4 linked regions of the Homo sapiens genome follow. The protein of the gene in region 1 interacts with the protein of each later gene in a biochemical or structural test. Each region holds a gene or a part of one and is shown in the gene's direction. Other genes may lie near its edges.

Evidence for each region. Proteins that work in one complex are often made in the same cells at the same time.
Region 2: the proteins of DPF2 (region 1) and SMARCB1 form a complex in vitro, tested with the Homo sapiens proteins (one study listed by BioGRID).
Region 3: the proteins of DPF2 (region 1) and NFKB1 form a complex in vitro, tested with the Homo sapiens proteins (2 studies listed by BioGRID).
Region 4: the proteins of DPF2 (region 1) and SMARCA2 form a complex in vitro, tested with the Homo sapiens proteins (one study listed by BioGRID).

The regions. Positions count from the first base shown.
Region 1 is NC_000011.10:65,346,004-65,351,329, forward strand, and holds part of DPF2 (zinc finger protein ubi-d4), read left to right. Parts: coding exon 1-55; intron 56-243; coding exon 244-356; intron 357-2,846; coding exon 2,847-2,928; intron 2,929-5,326. UniProt on the Homo sapiens protein: Plays an active role in transcriptional regulation by binding modified histones H3 and H4. Is a negative regulator of myeloid differentiation of hematopoietic progenitor cells. Might also have a role in the development and maturation of lymphoid cells.
Region 2 is NC_000022.11:23,824,966-23,829,377, forward strand, and holds part of SMARCB1 (SWI/SNF-related matrix-associated actin-dependent regulator of chromatin subfamily B member 1), read left to right. Parts: intron 1-259; coding exon 260-450; intron 451-4,412.
Region 3 is NC_000004.12:102,595,359-102,599,770, forward strand, and holds part of NFKB1 (nuclear factor NF-kappa-B p105 subunit), read left to right. Parts: intron 1-779; coding exon 780-974; intron 975-2,161; coding exon 2,162-2,303; exon of another isoform or gene 2,304-4,377; intron 4,378-4,412.
Region 4 is NC_000009.12:2,056,847-2,061,258, forward strand, and holds part of SMARCA2 (SWI/SNF-related matrix-associated actin-dependent regulator of chromatin subfamily A member 2), read left to right. Parts: intron 1-1,444; coding exon 1,445-1,618; intron 1,619-3,969; coding exon 3,970-4,140; intron 4,141-4,412. UniProt on the Homo sapiens protein: ATPase involved in transcriptional activation and repression of select genes by chromatin remodeling (alteration of DNA-nucleosome topology).

The DNA.
Region 1 (5,326 bases):
AAGAAGACGGGACAACCCGAGGAGCTGGTGTCCTGTTCTGACTGTGGCCGCTCAGGTACTGCTTCCCGTGAAGGCTGCTGCTTTGCCCAGTCCCCAAGGGGCTCTTGGCTTGCTGGCCTCTAGGGCTGTCATAACCAGCCCACCTCGCTTTTCCTAACCAAGAGAAGATGTAGCCACAGGCAGGAGCTCCTCTCTTCCCCCCGCATTTCCGACTGTCTGTCTCACTCACTTCCCCCACTACAGGGCATCCATCTTGCCTCCAATTTACCCCCGTGATGATGGCGGCAGTGAAGACATACCGCTGGCAGTGCATCGAGTGCAAATGTTGCAATATCTGCGGCACCTCCGAGAATGACGTGTGTATCCCCGCCCCCTCCTCAGCATGGCTCCTTCTGGGCTTTTACTGCTGTTTGCACAGTTCCCTCTAAAGTGAGCTTTCTTTTAAAAAGGGAGCAGGATCCCTCCCACATGCCACACGCCCCTCCCTAGCATCTCAGTCAGAACTCTGATTTGTTGCCAGATATATATTGAGTGCTGATTTTATGTCAGACACTGTTCTAGTCACTAAAGATGCTAAAGACAAACAAGGTCCCTGCCTCATGAGATTTACATTCTTACAGGAACAACAATAAGCAAGGATGTAAATGAGATTTGTATAATGTGCCATGAAAAAAACGAAATCAGTACTGTGGCAGAGAATAATTGCATAAGTGATTTATTTTGATGGTCAGGTATGGCTCTTCTGGGAGGGTGATGCTGGTGTTGAAATTTTGGTGATACCAAGGAGCCAGTCAAGATTTGGAGGTAGAGGAATCCCAGGAAAGGAGCAGCCAGCGCCAAGGCCTTATGTTGGACAAGCCAGATGACAGGGCATGGGAGAGTATGGTGGGCAATGAGATGAGAGAGGCAAGCACTGCCAGATCTCTGGGGCCTCGGGTTTTATTCTAGGTACAACAGGACACTGTTGAAGGGTTTTACTCGGGAAGTGACATGGTTATTTATGTATTTATTTATTTACTTTTTTTTTTTGAGATGGAGTCTTGCTCTGTCGCCCAGGCTGGAGTACAGTGGCACAATCTCAGCTCACTGCAACCTCTGCCTCCTGGGTTCAAGTGATTCTCCTGCCTCAGCCTCCCAAGTAGCTGGGATTACAGACACGTGCCACCACACCCGGCTAATTTTGTATTTTTAGTAGAGATGGGGTTTCTCCATGTTTGCCAGGCTGGTATCGAACTCCTGACCTCCGGTGATCCGCCTGCCTCAGCCTCCCAAAGTGCTGGGATTATAGGCGTGAGCCACTGCACCCAGCTATTTATTTATTCTTTATGTATTTATTTATTTATTTTGAGACAGAGTCTCTCTGTCATCCAGGCTGGAGTGCAGTGACGCGATCTTAGCTCACTAAAACCTTTCCCTTCAGGCTCAAGCAGTACAATCCTCCCACCTCAGCCTCCCGGGTAGCTGGGACCACAGATGCACACCACCATGTCTGGCTACTTTTTTATATTTTTGGTAGAGACAGGGTCTTGCCATATTGCTGAGCTGGTCTCAAACTCCTGAGCTCAAGCAGTCCTCCCACCTTGGCCTCTCAAAGTGCTGGGATTACAGGCATGAACCCACCATGTCTGGCCTTGTCTTATATTTTATTTTATATTTATTTATTTATTTCAAGATGGAGTTTTACTCTTGTCATCCAGGCTGGAGTACAATGGCGCAATCTCGGCTCACTGCAACCTCTGCCTCCCAGGTTCAAGCAATTCTCCTGTCTCAGCCTCCCAGGTAGCTGGGATTACAGGCGCCCGCCACCACGCCTGGCTAATTTTTAGTAGAGACGGGGTTTCACCATGTTGGCCAAGCTAGTTTTCAACTCCTGACCTCAGGTGATCCACCTGCCTCAGCCTCCCAAAATGCTGGTATTACAGGTGTGAGCCACCGTGCTTGGCCCTTGTCTTATATTTTAAAAAGATGACTTTGGGTGCCGTGTGGAGGGTAGACTGTAGGGACAAGGATGGAGGCTCATGCCTGTAATCCTAACACTTGAGAGGCTGAGGCGGGAGGATCACTTGAGCCCAGGAATTCAAGACCAGCCTGAGCAACATAGGGAGATCCTGTCTCCACAAAAAAAATAAACACTTAGCCAGGTGTGGTGGCACACACGTTAGTCCCAGCTACTTGGCAGGCTGAGGTGGGAGGATTGCTTGAACCCAGGAGTTTGAGGCTGCAGTGAGCCATGATCACACCACCGCACTCTAGCCTGGGCAACAAAGCAAGACCTTGTCTCAAAAAGAAATAGTCACTGGGCACGGCGTCTCACACCTGTAATCCAAGCACTTTGGGAGGCTGAGGTGGGAGGATTGCTTGAGCCTGGGATTTCAGGACCAGCCTGGGCAACGTAAGGAGATCTTGTCTCTCCAAAAACATTGAAAAATTAGCTAGGTGTGGTGGTGTGTGCCTATAGTCCCAGCTACTTGAGAGGCTGAGGTAGGAGGATCACTTGGGCCCAGGAGGTCAAGGCTGCAGTGAGCCGTGATTGCACCACTGCACTCCAGCCTGAGTGACAGCAATACCCTGTCTCAAAAAAATATACCATAGAGCTTGGGCTTTAGGGAAAAAAAAAAAAAAAAAAAAGTGGAGGTGATTTGATCAATTAGGAGCTCTGAAAGGACCCAAGTGAGAAATGACAGTGACTGGATCTGCGGTGGAGAGGGGCAGCATGGTTTCCCACATAAGATTCTCACATCTGTTCTTACCTGCTACCTACCCCTCTTGGAAATAGCAGTGTCCTGTAGTGGCCTGAGGCACATCAGTTATTCAGTCCCCATCCTCTTCCCTCTTGCCTACTTCAGGACCAGTTGCTCTTCTGTGATGACTGCGATCGTGGCTACCACATGTACTGTCTCACCCCGTCCATGTCTGAGCCCCCTGAAGGTAAGTTGCCCAGATCTTTTACTCAGAACAATTACTTTATTAGTTACTTGGAAAATACTGAGTTCTATGTTCTTTATGTTATCACTTACATATTCTTCCAAATTAGGGAGTAAAGCACCTTGCCTTGGCTCAGTTTAGAATGCCTTCCTAACATTTCAACTTAAAGGGTTTAGTGTTTGCACATTATCAGCTACATTTACAACAGAAAATCAACAGCCCAGAAGAAAGCAGATGCTGAGCCGAGATCAGGCACCCAGAAGGAATGATTTATTTTCTTCCAACCAGTCCAGAAAACTCAAGTGGTAGATTATCTGATGTGAAACTTCTGCAGTCAACTCTTGAAATTTGATAGATTTGAGCATTTATTTCCTATCCCTTCCCCTTCTGAACTGGGAAGGGACTTGACTTTGGAGCCTGAATGGGTCAGTCTGCTTCTCCGATAACTTACTGTAATAATGGTCCAAATTTATTAAAGCTATTCACTGAAACCAGTGGTGGCACCAAGAATTGGTTGCATCTCCACAAGTCCCCTTCCAGCTGGATTTCTGTACATAAACACCTCCTGTACAGAAATTGAGTAGCAGCTGGGCGCGGTGGCTCAAGCCTGTAATCCCAGCACTTTGGGAGGCCGAGGTGGGCGGATCACGAGGTCAGGACATGGAGACCATCCTGGCTAACACGGTGAAACCCCGTCTCTACTAAAAATACAAAAAAATTAGCCGGCTGTGGTGGCGGGCGCCTGTAGTCCCAGCTACTCAGGAGGCTGAGGCAGGAGAATGGCGTGAACCCGGGAAGCGGAGCTTGCAGTGAACCGAGATCGCACCACTGCACTCCAGCCTGGGCGACAGAGCGAGACTCCATCTCAAAGAAAAAAAAAAAAAAGCCAACAGAAATTCAGTAGCTTACTCAGAACACAAATGCCCAGGAGCTGTTACTGTGCACAAAGGATGTGGGCCAGCATTACAGGCAAGAGAAAGTGTTTCATTGTGTGATGTAAGCTGACTTGTAACATATCGGTCAAACTGCTGTCACCCCTCTAGAGAATGAGGCCCCTGACAATGTCTAAGAGTCCTTTAGCAGCTGTAGGGGAGTACTCAGCTTCTGTCAGGCCCAGTTTATGAATCTGCTTTGGGGAGAAGTCGCATGTTTATGTTTTGTTTTGTTTTGTTTTTTTAAACCATCAAACAGATGATCTATGTTACAGAATGGCTTTCCTATTAAAGTTCTGTGGGACATCGAGGTAGTGGAGAGCTGCAGGCCCGAGTGTCCTCACTGTAGTGTTAAGGCAGCTGAGGGGCAACCCCTAGAAGTATCAGATGTTCTAGGTCAGGGTCAGCAAGCTACAAGCTAAAACCTATGGACCACATCCAGCCACAGCCAGCTTAAATAGCTTGCAAGCTGTTTTGTTTTCTTTTCTTTTCTCTTTTTCTTTTTCTTTCTTTCTTTTTTTTTTTTTTTTTTGAGACAGTGTCTTGTTCTGTTGCCCATGTTGGAGTGGAGTGGCATGATCTCAGCTCACTGCAACCTCTGCTTCCCCGGGCTCAGGTAATCTGGTAATCCTCCCACCTCAGCCTCCTGAGTACCTGGGACTACAGGCATGCCACCACACCCGGCTAATTTTTGTATTTTTAGTAGAGACGGGGTTTTGCCATGGTGCCCAGGCTGGTCTCGAACTCCTGGGCTCAAGTGATCCACCCACCTCAGCTTCCCAAAGTGCTGGGATTACAGGTGTGAACCACTGCATCTAGCCTGAAGAAAATCCCCTTAAAAATATAAAAACTGGCTGTGCACTGTGGCTCGCATCTGTAATCCCAGCACTTTGGGATCTCTTGAGCCCAGGGGTTCAAGACCAGCCTGGGCAGCATGGCAAAACCCCATCTTTACTAAAAATAGAGAAATTAGCTGGGCGTGGTGCTGTGCGCTTGTAATCTCAGCTACTATAGAGGCTGAGGCAAGAGAATTGCTTGAATCTGGGAGGCAGAGGTTAGAGTAAGCTGAGATCACACTGCTGTACTCCAGCCTGAGCAACAGAGCGGAAACTCTTGTCTCAGAAAAAAAAAAAATAAAGGGAGTTAAAAAAAAAATGCATGAGACTGTATGTGGCTCACACACCCTAAAATATTTAACACTCTGGCTCTTTACAGAAAACTTTGCCAACCGTATTGACCTTTGGGTTAGAAAGGACTTACATTTTTGAGTCACCTGTTTCTGAAGAGCTGATAAAAGCCCTAGAATAATGTCCAAATGCGCATAGGTATAATTTTGCTTATCATTTCAAGGCATTAAGGACTAATTTTATTCAAAAAAAATTAGAAGAATTCAGCCATAGTCAATATTAATAAACAAGGAATGACCCAATTGTTTTTCATATAAGGGACAATTATTTTGTGTTTTTTAG
Region 2 (4,412 bases), on another chromosome or scaffold:
CTCAGGTGCCCCCGGGGTCACTTCAGGGCCTCCCGAGGGTGACTGTGCTGGGCCCTGAGCCAGAGCCCCTCATGGCAGACAGGGTTGTGGGGTCAGCCTTGTTTTGGGGATGGGGAACTGGAAGGACAAGGACCACCTGCAGTTCTCAGCTGGTGGACCCTGGTGGGCAGGGCCCACCCCAGGCCTGGCAGGGCCCCGCTCCTCGCGGCCTCCCTGGGCTGCAAAAGCTCTAACTTGTGTCCTTTGGTTGTTGCCTCAGCTGAACATCCATGTGGGAAACATTTCCCTGGTGGACCAGTTTGAGTGGGACATGTCAGAGAAGGAGAACTCACCAGAGAAGTTTGCCCTGAAGCTGTGCTCGGAGCTGGGGTTGGGCGGGGAGTTTGTCACCACCATCGCATACAGCATCCGGGGACAGCTGAGCTGGCATCAGAAGACCTACGCCTTCAGGTAGGATCATGCATGAGTCTCTCCCTCCCTCATCTCCCTGCAAAACTGTTTTGAGAAAGACTTCTCTGTGTGAGCGGTGATACCTTTGAGGCTTTCTCACGCTTCGCAGCACAATCTGGCTGGGGTCTGTGTGTTTGCTCCGTCCTCCTCCTGCCCTATGTATCTCTCCAGGGCTCCGCTGTGCCAGGTAGGGTTAGAAGCACCTAACACAATAGCTGGCAAAGACTTGGAGTTCTGTCAGGGTGAACCTCAAGTCCTTGCCTCCACGGAGCCCTGGCCTGCCCCCACCATCCACCATTCAGTTGTCCTGCCCCACACCCTCTCTCTCTGCTCTTGCCCAGACTGTTATTTTGGTCAGGGTGACCCCTGCCCAGGGTTCTTCATCTGTTGAACTTGAATTATGTCTTAAACACAAAGGCCCGCCCAGCTTTTGAGAGTCAGGGGTCCCTAGCAGCTCCTTCTTACTCTAGTATCTCTGCCTTTGGTCAGTCAGAGAGCATTTGATGAGTACCATGCTGGGCTGGACCCCATCCTGGCTGCCCTGGAAGATAGAGACAGGTCACCTTGATCCCTGCCTGTAGCATTTGGGCTGGCTGAGATGGTGGAAGTGTGAACAGAATATTCCAGTCCAGTGTCCTCTGTGGTAGGGATGGGGATGGACCCGGGAGAGGCCCTCCTGTTCCTGGCAGGAGGTGGGACTCAGAGTTAAAAGTGAGGTCAAGGCCCAGTGCGATGGCTCACACCTGCAGTCCTAGCACTTCGCGGAGCTGAGGTGGATCACCAGAACCCAGTAGTTCAAGACCAGCCTGGGAAAAACATGGTGAGACCCCACCTCTACAAAAAAAAAAAAATAGAAAAAATGAGCCGGGCATGTTGGTACATGCCTGTAGTTTCAGCTACTCAGGAAGCTGAGGTGGGAGGATCGCCTGAGCTCAAGAGGTGGAGGCTGCAGTGAGCCAAGATCACACCACTGCACTCCAGCCTGGGTGACAGAGCGAGACCCTGTCTCCAAAAAAAAAAAAAAAAATAGCGAGGTTGAACTCTCCCGGCTCAGCAGGACTCTAGGACTGGGAAGCCCCGTGGTTCCTCACCCTGTCCTCTGTGTTGGGATGGGGTGGGGGTGCAGCAAGCATCCCTACATCAAAACAGGATGTTCAGATTTAGTCTGCTCATCAGACTATCATCATCCACATCTGCAGTCATCACTCAGGGATGACAGCTTAAAATGCTACATGAGGAGCAAATAGGAAGGTCTGTTTTGCAAAGCCATGACAATTAATGGAGCTCGTTAGGTTTGTGTCTAACTTGTTTTCCCAGACATCCCAAGAGACAGCTTTCTATGACTTCCCATAAATCTGAGCAAGGAAGAAGGAATGAGAGCCACCCACGGGGCTCAAGGGCCCGGGCCTGGGAAACAGCTGAGTCCCTGCCTGAGCGCCATGGTGCTGAGATCCTGTGACCTGCCCCCCAGCAGCCCTGCCAGTCACATGGTTCTGCTTCACAGACAGGGCAGCCCAGAGAGGAGGCTGGGGGGCTGGTGTCTGATGCCTCCCTGTTCCCTCGGGGTGTTGCCTGGGAGTGCAGCTGTAGCGTGCATTCACCCTGCACAGAGCCAAGCCCTATGGCCGGAGAGCCAGTCAAGGGTGGCCTCCCTCCACCAGAGTTGACTCTGAGGCCCCGGGAGGCAGTCATGTTGCGCGCATCAACACTGAGCACCTCCTCCCGCAGAGGCTGATCCAGTCAGAACCCTCGTCTTGGGCTCACAGGTGCAGGTGGTAGGCTGGCTGCCCCCAGCATCCAGCCCCTACGGTGTTGACCTTCACCTAGTCCTGCAGCCGCTGCCAGTGCCCACAGTCCAGGGTCAGGAACTGAAGTCCCCGGGGCCTCTTGACAGGTCCTTGCAACATCCCTTCTTTCAGCCACCATGGCACCATCCCTCCTGCTCTGACCCGAAGGTGACCTGAGCCTAAATTCCTTTCCAAGTTCCGGGCCCTCTGCAGTTTGCAGAGTGGCTCCAGAGCAGACCCCCTGGGGAGTCCCTGGTGGTGGCAGGTCAGGATTTAGAGGCAGAGGCGGGCCCCTTCTTTATCTCATCGACCACTTAGTGCATTCCAGTTGCAGGGCCTGGGGGCATCACAGACCCCCTGCCCCCTGCTCTCTCTTATGCTGAGAATGCAGGTTTCAAATCTTTGGGGTTAAAGGCAAAGGCCATCCCGCTGGGACCAAGGTGAGCACACGTCCCTATCACAGCAGCCAGATGGAGAGGCGGCCTGCCTGGGGAACTGGGAAGTGTCCTGAGTGGGCTTTTAGCATCAGGAGGGCTGCGTGTGTCTTCCCAGTCCCCACACTGGAAGACAGCTGCAAGGATAGGACAGGGCCTTAGGGTTGGGCTGTCATCCCTGACTCCAACTCGCGTTCCCCCCACTGTACCACCCCACCCCATGGGATCTTAGGAGGGACTTCGTTTAACTCTGTCCCCAGGGAGACCAGTGTCAGTCCTGCCTGGCCCTGCCTGGGGAAAGGAGGCTGGGCCACTGAGTCCCCAGGTCCAGGGGCCAGTCAGCCCACAGAGAGCTAGACCAGGAGTCCTGGCCTGGTCTCTGCCACACAGAAAGCTTGGCAACTGCTGTGTCACATGACTTTTTGTTTTGTTTTGAGATGGGGTCTCGCTCTGTCGCCCAGGCTGGAGTGCAGTGGCGTGATCTCGGCTCACTGCAAGCTCTGCCTCCTGGGTTCACGCCATTCTCCTGCCTCAGGCTCCTGAGTAGATGGGACTACAGGTGCCCGCCACCACGCCCAGCTAATTTTTGTGTTTTTAGTAGAGACGGGGTTTCACCGTATTAGCTAGGATGGTCTGGATCTCCTGACCTTGTGATCCACCCATCTCGGCCTCCCAAAGTGCTGGGATTACAGGCGTGAGCCACCGCGCTCGGCCACATGACTTCTTAAGAAGGGTTTTCAGGCTAGGCATGGTGGCTCACGCCTGTAATCCCAGCACTTTGGGAGGCCGAGGTGGGCGGATCACCTGAGGTCAGGAGTTAGAGACAGGCCAACATGGCAAAACCCCGTCTCTACTAGAAGTAGAAAAATTAGCCAGGTGTGGTGGTGGGCACCCGTAATCCCAGCTACTCGGGAGGCTGAGGCAGGAGAATTGCTTGAACCCGTGAGGCGGAGATTGCAGTGAGCTGAGATTGCACCATTGTGCTCCAGCCCGACAGAGCTAGACTCCATCTCAAAAAAAAGGGTTTTCAGCTCTGGACCTAGGTCACTCCATAATGGAAGCACTCGCTGATTCCCCAAGAGCCAGTCCCTCCATCTCTCCCAGCCAGAGCTCAGTGCCTGACTTCCATACCCTCCTCGGCAGTGGGGACATTGATTGGATCCATGGTACAGTGGGGCAAGCTGCTGGCCACAGGACATGTGTGTGCAAGGCCACTATGCCCACACCTCAGGGGAACCAGGGCAGAGAACAGCCTGTTCCCTTTGGCAGTGGGACAGACAGGAGACAAGCATGAAGGGGAAACAGGGGCATGTGACAAACTGGTCAGAAGCCCTAGGCTCCTAGAGGACAGACTGGGACCAGAGTGACACAGGCGTCCCAGAGCCAGTGGAGTGGGATGAAGGGCCAGCGAAAGGAGGGAGACAGGGCTCAAGGGGAAGGAGGCTGGGCTAGGCAGAGCCTCTGAGGAGAGCTGATCCTGCAAAGTTACTGGCACCTCCCCTGGGCCAGCCCTGTGTTCCTGGCCAGGGACGGGAGGAGACAGTGCCCTGTCTGGCAGAGGAAACAGATTCATGTGCATGACTATCAGTGTGCCATGGCCACAGAAAGCACCGGAGGCTGTGGGCATGAGGAAGGGCAGTTGGGGGCATAGAACCTGGGGTGAGGATGGCCAGGGCAGGTGCTGATGGGGGACTGCAGCAGGAAGGACCGAGAGGAGACCAGGGACAGGCAGGTGCTTGAG
Region 3 (4,412 bases), on another chromosome or scaffold:
CATCAAGTCATCCCCTGAGAAGCTGCAGTTAAACCACATGTTGATAGTTTATATTACAGGTCCATTCTAGTGTACCCATGGAAGAAATAATACTATAAAGAAGTCTTCCCATTTATTGAATACCTATTTTTGTGCCAAGTGCTTTTACATGTTTTAACTGTTATCTTCATGACTGCTCTATATGGAAAATAGTAACTCCATTTTGCACACAAAAGGCATCAAAGTTCAGAAATGTTCGTACTCACTGAAGGCACACAGAAGTTAGTGGCAGAACAAGAATTTGAAGCAGGTCTCCTGCAGAAAAGCTAGATGCTCTCATAGTATCTGTCAGATAACATAGTTGAACCTGAAAGAGGGTGATCAGGAATGGTACACTGGATAACTCCCACACTAAAGAATGTGAGTCGACAACACGTCTTTATGATTTGCTTTGTTCATTAGCATTAGGAAAAAACTGCTCTGTTTTCAAGAACTTTAAAAATTCAGCTTTCCTGCAATTCATAGAAGAGCTTTATTTCATTTTTCTCCTTTACAAATAAGCAAAATGAGATTTAAGATTTTAGAAGTATACTAAAAATGATTTTTAGAAATGAGTTTAGAATATCTCCAAAACATGGTATTTATGATATGACCATTTTTAAAAGAATTTTAAATTATTATTTTTCTTTTCCTTTTGCAGCAAACTTGTCTCTTACCTTTATCTGACCTACATTGGAATAGCGAATTATCACTAAATACATTTTACTGAGAAAAATCTGATGTTTTTGCATTTATCTTAGGAACCATGGACACTGAATCTAAAAAGGACCCTGAAGGTTGTGACAAAAGTGATGACAAAAACACTGTAAACCTCTTTGGGAAAGTTATTGAAACCACAGAGCAAGATCAGGAGCCCAGCGAGGCCACCGTTGGGAATGGTGAGGTCACTCTAACGTATGCAACAGGAACAAAAGAAGAGAGTGCTGGAGTTCAGGGTAAGTGAGCACACAAATTACGTTCTGTTGGTTGGCTGGGGAGGGGTCAGTCCTAGGTGCAGAAAGATATCTGCTAATCTAAAGATGATATATCAATATCTAGTTTAGTGTACTCTTCAAAGTTCTGTATGCCTTTGGAAAAGCATATGTCAGATCATTTTATTCACACTGGGATTTCCATTTTTGCTCTGTTATCTTTGAATGTAAAGGACAGAAATTTATATGTACATTCTCCAGTCATAATCATGCAGTTTTAGGGTATTGTGAGAGATAATCAACTTCTTTTCTGGCACAGATAAATAGAGAAGTATTTCCACAAGCTTAATAGTCACCCTGTCTAGATTCTGGCTTAACCGTCATACTGAAATAGAACTTTGCCTTAAAATAGGAACTTTTCTTTTTATCTTGTGCCCTCTTTGAAGAAGTAGGATTAGGAGAAAATGTACTTTTGCGTTTACTGTGAACCAATACTTATTAGCATATGTGTCATGATTCTAGGTCATCCTAGATCGTACTAAGAAGACGTCTATAAAAGCAAAGGTAGTAAATATTTAGAGTTGGTGGCCACATGTGGTGTCTATCACATATGCTTTTTTTTTACACCCCTTTAAAAATGTATAAGCCATGATTAGCTAGGGAGCTATATGAAAAGCAGGCCATAAACAGGTTTTGGCCCAAAGGTCACAAATGCCATTCCCTGACCTTAATGGAACAAACTTTACAAAAACGTGAGTGGCTCATTGAACGTCTCTGTTTATGGCAGAGATGTGTGTTTTTTCACACATTGCCTAACAAGCTAATTGTTAGAGATTCCAATGAAGGATTATTTCACCAAGATATTGGTGATTTAAAATCATGGTAAAATCTAACATTGTTTGGAGATTGTTTTCCTTAAAATAACAGATAATGGTCGTTCCCTTAAAATAATACATTTCTAAACTTTTTTCCTCTAACAAATCATACACAGATTCTTTAAGATCAATCTCTAACTATATTTGTCAGTGACCCAGTGTCCAATTCTGCTTTTTCTAGTCCACACAATCCAAAAGCATTGAAAGAACATTTTCAACTAAAATGATATGTCAAGGTGTCAGAACACTGATGCTGGTCAGTTTGTCCTTAAGCATGCCATACCCATAAAACAAAAGTAGGAACACTCAACTATGATTGTGGTCATTGCCTTACAGATAACCTCTTTCTAGAGAAGGCTATGCAGCTTGCAAAGAGGCATGCCAATGCCCTTTTCGACTACGCGGTGACAGGAGACGTGAAGATGCTGCTGGCCGTCCAGCGCCATCTCACTGCTGTGCAGGATGAGAATGGGGACAGGTAAGTCAGAACTTTTGCATGATAGGTTGTCCTGGGTGGGGAAGAAGAAGAGCATCGTATAATGCATACTGACTAGAGATAAAAATAATTGTTCAAATATATTGAGTCCTCTAACTGGAATGATGAAGAAAAATAATGTGTGAATAAGGTTAAGTAGCACAATTTGCTGCTCCATCCTGCTGCTGTCATCTGTTGGAATCTGTAGTAGCTGGAGGACTCATCTAAGAGTGAATCTCTCTGGGCAAGAAAACTAAGATGTGTGTAGGTAATGGTACTTTTTGAAAAGCCTTGCTTTGTTTATTGAAGTAATATTTGGAGAATTGTTAAGAGTCCTACCAAATCCCTGAAGCATTGTTATCCCAGCTGCATATTTATGACAGTGTACTCAAGAAAAAGCCCAATAAAGGCAGCAACAACAACAGAAAGATTAAGAGGGACTGGTCATTATTTCCCAGTTACTGGTTTCTTCTCTGCTCCCTCTTCTGATGGTCATCAGTCTATGACTGTTTCAGACTTTTGTGACTGCTCCAGCCCATATGTGGGAGTGGAACATTCCAAACACCATGCCTTCCATTCTTGCTATTACTGAGATTGTATTTGCAAAGCCACCTGGCTTCTTTCTAAAACAGTTCTCTTAGTCCTTTCATTGAGACTTCTAAAATGATCTCAAAAGCCTATAAAAATAACAAGAGACAGCAGCCTTCACATTCAAGTCAAGTGCCTTATCTAAAACCTTCCTAAAATAGCATCAACATAGAGAAATCCTTTTCTGTGGAAGAGCTCTTGAGTGCTGTGTTTTAGACTTCAGTTTAAAAATTAAACCAAGCACTTTAGGAAAGTAACAACCTCAGGGTTTCAAGCAGAGACACCTTTGTTCTCATTCCTTGCAACGTAACCAAGGATGTGGTATAACCACTGGCCTTGTTATACAGTATGAGAGGAACCAGTACAACCTTCTTGGTATAAAGCCATGAACAGCAGAATTCTTTTTCAGGGTTAAATAATCCAGTTAGCATTCAGTAGCATACAACCACAAGAAAAAGCAGTTAACCAAGACAGTACAGCAGTGTTTCAAGTGGCATTTCCAGGGACCTGTTAAATTGATAAGTCTAAGAAGATGAGCACATACAGGTTAGAAAGGAAGTGCTGATATCTGAAGGGAGGATTGTTGGAAGGGATACAAGGCGAGGCACATGCAAGTTCCCTCCTAAGACCCAAGCACACTCACACAAGCCGGCTCTCAGAGAGGCCACAGATTTGGGACTTGGAGAGACCAGAGGATCCTCATAAGAGCATAGGTATAGGGCAGCTTTTGGCCATCACAGCCCAAGTCTCTTGTTTTAATTCAGCTCGTCATATTTGGCTAATAGTTTAAATCCTGTGGCCATTAGTCATCATAGAAAATATAATAAAGAAAAATATATAAAACTTCTGCTATTGGGGAAATTCCCATAAGGGTGTGAGGATTTGAGGGGGAGGGGGAATGTACTTCTGCTATGAAATGCTGAGCGGCACATGGAAATTTTCGAGCAGTTTTAGAAGTATGACCTTTTTCTTGGTGTATGTGCATCATGTCTATGTCAGAGTTTAGGCCCTTTTCAGAAGTCTTCTTCCAGTATCACATTTCAAGAAGCAATAGTGAAACCCTGAGATCATCCGTTTTAAAATATTTCTCAAGTAGCAAAATCACAATTTAGTTTTTTAGGCTCTTCTGTGCCGGAGTTAATCCCAAGTACGATATACTTGCTATTGCTAAGGAAGAGGCTTGAGTAAAGTGGCACCTGATAGCTTATTTTAGAGAAGATCCAGCCTGTACCTCGTGTCCCAGATGTAGTGCTGCTGCGAGATGCTTTAGTGTGCTCTGCACCTCAATCTGTCCATGCTCTGGAGTGGTCATCTTCTTAGACATTCATCTGAATGTCTTTAGAACAGTGCACATGTATCCCCTATGCAGGATTGCTTAAGGGATTAAGAGATGGCTTTGGAGTAAGACAGGCCTGGGCTTGAATCCCAGCTTCACCACGTATTGGCCTTGACTGAGTTATATGACGCCTGCAAGTCTCAGTTTCATTAGCTGAAAAGTGAAGATAATATTACCTAACTCATAGG
Region 4 (4,412 bases), on another chromosome or scaffold:
TTCTTAGACCCTGGGCTTTGCTCACCCTCACTTTGGCAGAGCTGTCCAATGAATTCATCAAATGGGGTCAGAATGACTGAAAAATGGACCCTTGTGGGTGGTGGGGACATCACAGAACAGAACGGTTCCTTGACATGTACATAATCCAACCACATCATTTTATAGACAAAGACGCTTAAGCCAGGACGTATAAATGACTGCCCAAGGTCATACAATTGCTTAGCAGCACAATGAGGTTTAGTATTGTCTTAGTTTGTCTGGGCTGCTATAAAAAAATAGCACAAACTGGGTGGTTGATGAGCAACAGAAGTTTATTTTTCACCGTTCTGGAGGCTGGAAGCCTGAGATCAGGGTACTAGCATGGCTGGGCTCTGGTGAGGGTCTTCTTCTGGGTTGCAAACTGTTAACTTCTCCTTGTTTTCTTACGTGGTGGAAGCAGGCCAAGAAAGCTCTCCGGGCTTCCTTTATAAGGGCACTAATCCCATTCGTAAGGGCTCTACCCTCATGACCTTATCACCTCCCGAAGACCCCACCTCCTAATACCATTACATTGGGAGTTAGCATTTCAATATATAAATTTTGGGAGGACACAAACATTCAGTCCATAACAGGTGTCATGTTCATAATCCCATGGGAAGTTTTTGAATGGGTGGGCATAGGTGGATTTCCTAGAGCAAAATTCTGGGAGCAGGAACTTGGAAAAGGAAAGTAGAAAGCAAAAAGTTATTTTCATAACAAATATAATAGTGTCCTGGCTTCTCTGAAGGGCCTAGTTGAATGTTTCACAGAGGCAAATATTAAAAACATTCCTTTCTGGGGGTTTGGAAATATTTTGATGTAGGATTTGATTTCCTGTCATAGTCCTGTAAATTGTATTTGTTTTCCTGTGCTTAATTTAGTGCTTAGCTTAGTTTCCTTTTGAAAAAATGTTGGATTTTAGTGTAAATAGAGTATATATTTAAAAAGTGGATACAAATTCTGCATGGCAATTTTAACTTTGTATAAACTTATTTTGTGTCATACTCTAGGGTAGTTAGAGCAGAAAAACATTACTTTTGTGACATACTTTTTGCTGGAAATACTCATGTTCCTCAGGTTTATTTTGGAGTGAATGAGTGGTTTGCTTTACATTTTATCATTGCCATTTTGTAGGTCTCTTTCAGTCTTCGATCTTTCCATTCTCATGTGGCCACACCCTCAAGGCTAAGGAGGCTTCTCTTGCTAAAGCTTACAACAAAAGGAACCCGAAGAGGCTATCTTTCCCACCAGCCCCATGGCCCACACCTTAACTGCAGAGACACCAGGGCACCTATCCCCAAACAGATTCTAGTCTTCCTATGCTGTTAAACACACACTGAGAGTTTTCTTGGACAACACTGATAGCTCAGAGGACACTGGTCATTGGATTTTAAGTATCCTTTTCTTCCCTTTTTGGATCTTCTAGGAATACCTGAACAGTATTTTGCAACATGCAAAAGATTTTAAGGAATATCATCGGTCTGTGGCCGGAAAGATCCAGAAGCTCTCCAAAGCAGTGGCAACTTGGCATGCCAACACTGAAAGAGAGCAGAAGAAGGAGACAGAGCGGATTGAAAAGGAGAGAATGCGGCGACTGATGGTAAGGAACTCCCTGCAGGAGCCCAGGAAACTACTCAACCCACGTCCGTCTGCAATGAGACCATTAAATATGGTGGTAGTAGAAGGAAAAAATGAAAACTGCTTATCAAAAATTTTAGTAAATTTCTTTGAACCTTAGGGAGATGAAGTAAAAACTTTTTCTCTTTCCTGGAGAATGCATGCCAAAAATCTAGGGGGATGACTGATGCGTATAGTATTTCTGTGTCCTGGGGTGGCATTGCGCGGTACACATTACAGCTTCTCTCATAAAAGCAGGTACTGTATTTTGCATGAGTTTGATAACCAGATCTGGAAGGATGGCAAATGCAGTTCTTTTAAAAATATGGCCTCTTTGAGATGAATGACCACGTTTTTTGGAATGAATAACACATTAAGTCGTGTCTTCAAATCTAAGAAGGTCTGTGTTTTGAAGCCTCTGGTGCTTATCTTTCTTTTTTAATGGCAGAAATTATTCTCTAACAGTGTAATAAGTGATTTTTAAGTTGATTTTGAAATGTTGCCTTTTTTGTGATAGCCTTGTTATGGTCAAAGGCTATTCATGGATTATTACATTTGCACTGTTATTTTTTAATGGGCATATAAGCACAGAAGAGATAGGTTTATATCATTGGCCTGAGTATTTGTTTTTATTGACCATTTATTTTTGGAATTGGACCTCAGAGCACACTGTGGATTTTAGAAAAGCGTGTGTGTGTGTGATGTTATAATTATAGGAGACCTGCAGATTCTATCTAGGACGTAATGCCTGCATAGATGAAGATAAGGTCATTAGTCTCAGACCATAATTATGTTCCTGGAAAATTCTAAGTGACACTGTCTTCCTGGCTGGTATTACAGTTTGCATTTTTTTCATTTTTTGGATTCCAGAGAGTAAACACCATGTTTTAAAAGCCTCTGTGTGCAGGTACTACTACATCTTACTACCCTATCCTGCCTCCCTCTCCATACCAGGGAGAGAGGACTGTCCGAGAGGTTTCTGACTAGACCGTTTTTGTAGTAATTTGATCACTAAGCAGTCAAATTTGTCTGACTCAACTGAAGTGAAACTATATTAGAACTTCAGTAACAGATTGGTTTGACACTAATGATTAGGCATTTGCAAATCATTAATTTTTGCAATTAAGTGATGGAATATACAGATAATAGAGAAACTGAAGTTTTTTATCACTCTTTCTTCAAGTGAGTTCAACCATAACCGAAAGCAATTAGAGTTATAATAGCATTTGAGGCTCTTGCTCATCCACAGGGCAGACGGCAGCTAGACTGAGTGATGAAGCTGCTGTCACTCAGGCAGATGCTAGAGTGACACCCCTGGACAAAAGATCCCAAGTTTTTGTTTTTGTTTTTGCAATGGAGTTGCCTCTTAAAGATTTTGCAGCTTGCTCCTTTTATCGTGGCATTACATGATAAAAATAATTTGGAGTGTCCTTTTATTGGGATACACAAAGAGATTTCTCTCAAAATGGCTTAGAGTACATCAGAGTTTTATTCTGTTTAACCTCATCATGTTGCTTAATGGGAGGTGGAGGTGGGAATTACTGTATCTATTTTATTGCTCAGCAGTACCAGACTTCAGGTGCTAAGTGACTTGTCTCCAGTCACCTGGGCCCATTACTCAGTGCAGATCTGTGGCCAAAAAAAAAAAAAAAAAAAAAAAAAAAAAAAATCCCCCAAATTTGATCTTTCCTGTTAACCACAAAGTTTGTAATGCCAAAAAGAAAGACTTTTTAAAATATAAGACATTATTTGTTAAAAGCCCATTTGATTCCTTGCCTTTAGTAGTACTTTTTGAAATATTTATGAATGAAAGGATATTATGTCTGGAATTTGCTTCAAGACAATTCAGTTTGGGTTTAGAAGAAGAGTAGCAATGAAACAGGAGTCATCACAAGTGAATTTTTGTTGTTTGGGGTTGGTTATAGGAGAAATTAAACTATTCTCTCTGCTTTTGATTATATTTGAAAATGTCTAAAATATAGAGTTAAAGATAAAGTTTAGATCATGAATTGTCAAATTCTAAAATCTTTTTGTACAGTTAAAGCAACACAGAAAACAAAGAGCTTGGCTCAGAGTGCTTAATCACACCACACGTACAGTGTGGCTTTGTGCCCGGACTTTGCTGTAAACTCCAGTGTCCTGGGATGTAGGCGTCACACTTCTGTGTGTTTGTCCCACTTCAGACTCTGTGCAATGGCTTGAACAGCCCAACTCATCCAGTTTGCTACACTCCTACCAGTCAAAATGCAGACTGTCAAGGGGAGGACAGAGTGGAGAGTGGAGTTGTCTGCACGCTTATATTATGCTCTCATCCTGCTCTTCTTTCCTTAATAGGCTGAAGATGAGGAGGGTTATAGAAAACTGATTGATCAAAAGAAAGACAGGCGTTTAGCTTACCTTTTGCAGCAGACCGATGAGTATGTAGCCAATCTGACCAATCTGGTTTGGGAGCACAAGCAAGCCCAGGCAGCCAAAGAGAAGAAGAAGAGGAGGAGGAGGAAGAAGGTGCGTATCCTAGTGGTGGTGGCTGAGTCCAGGGTGTATGGGCAGGGATAAGTTTTTAAGGCGAGTATTGCTCTTTAAGTACTACTTCTTACACTGGTGGAAGGTTTAGATGATTGAATTGTGAAAATTGCATAAATGGGTATGGCATGGAAGTGTTGATTAGGTACACTAGACAACTATTGGAGGTAAGGGCATAATAATGGGATATACTAAACTAAAACAATGTTGTTCATAAATCATTGTTTAATAGAAGATTTTAAATTAAGTACATA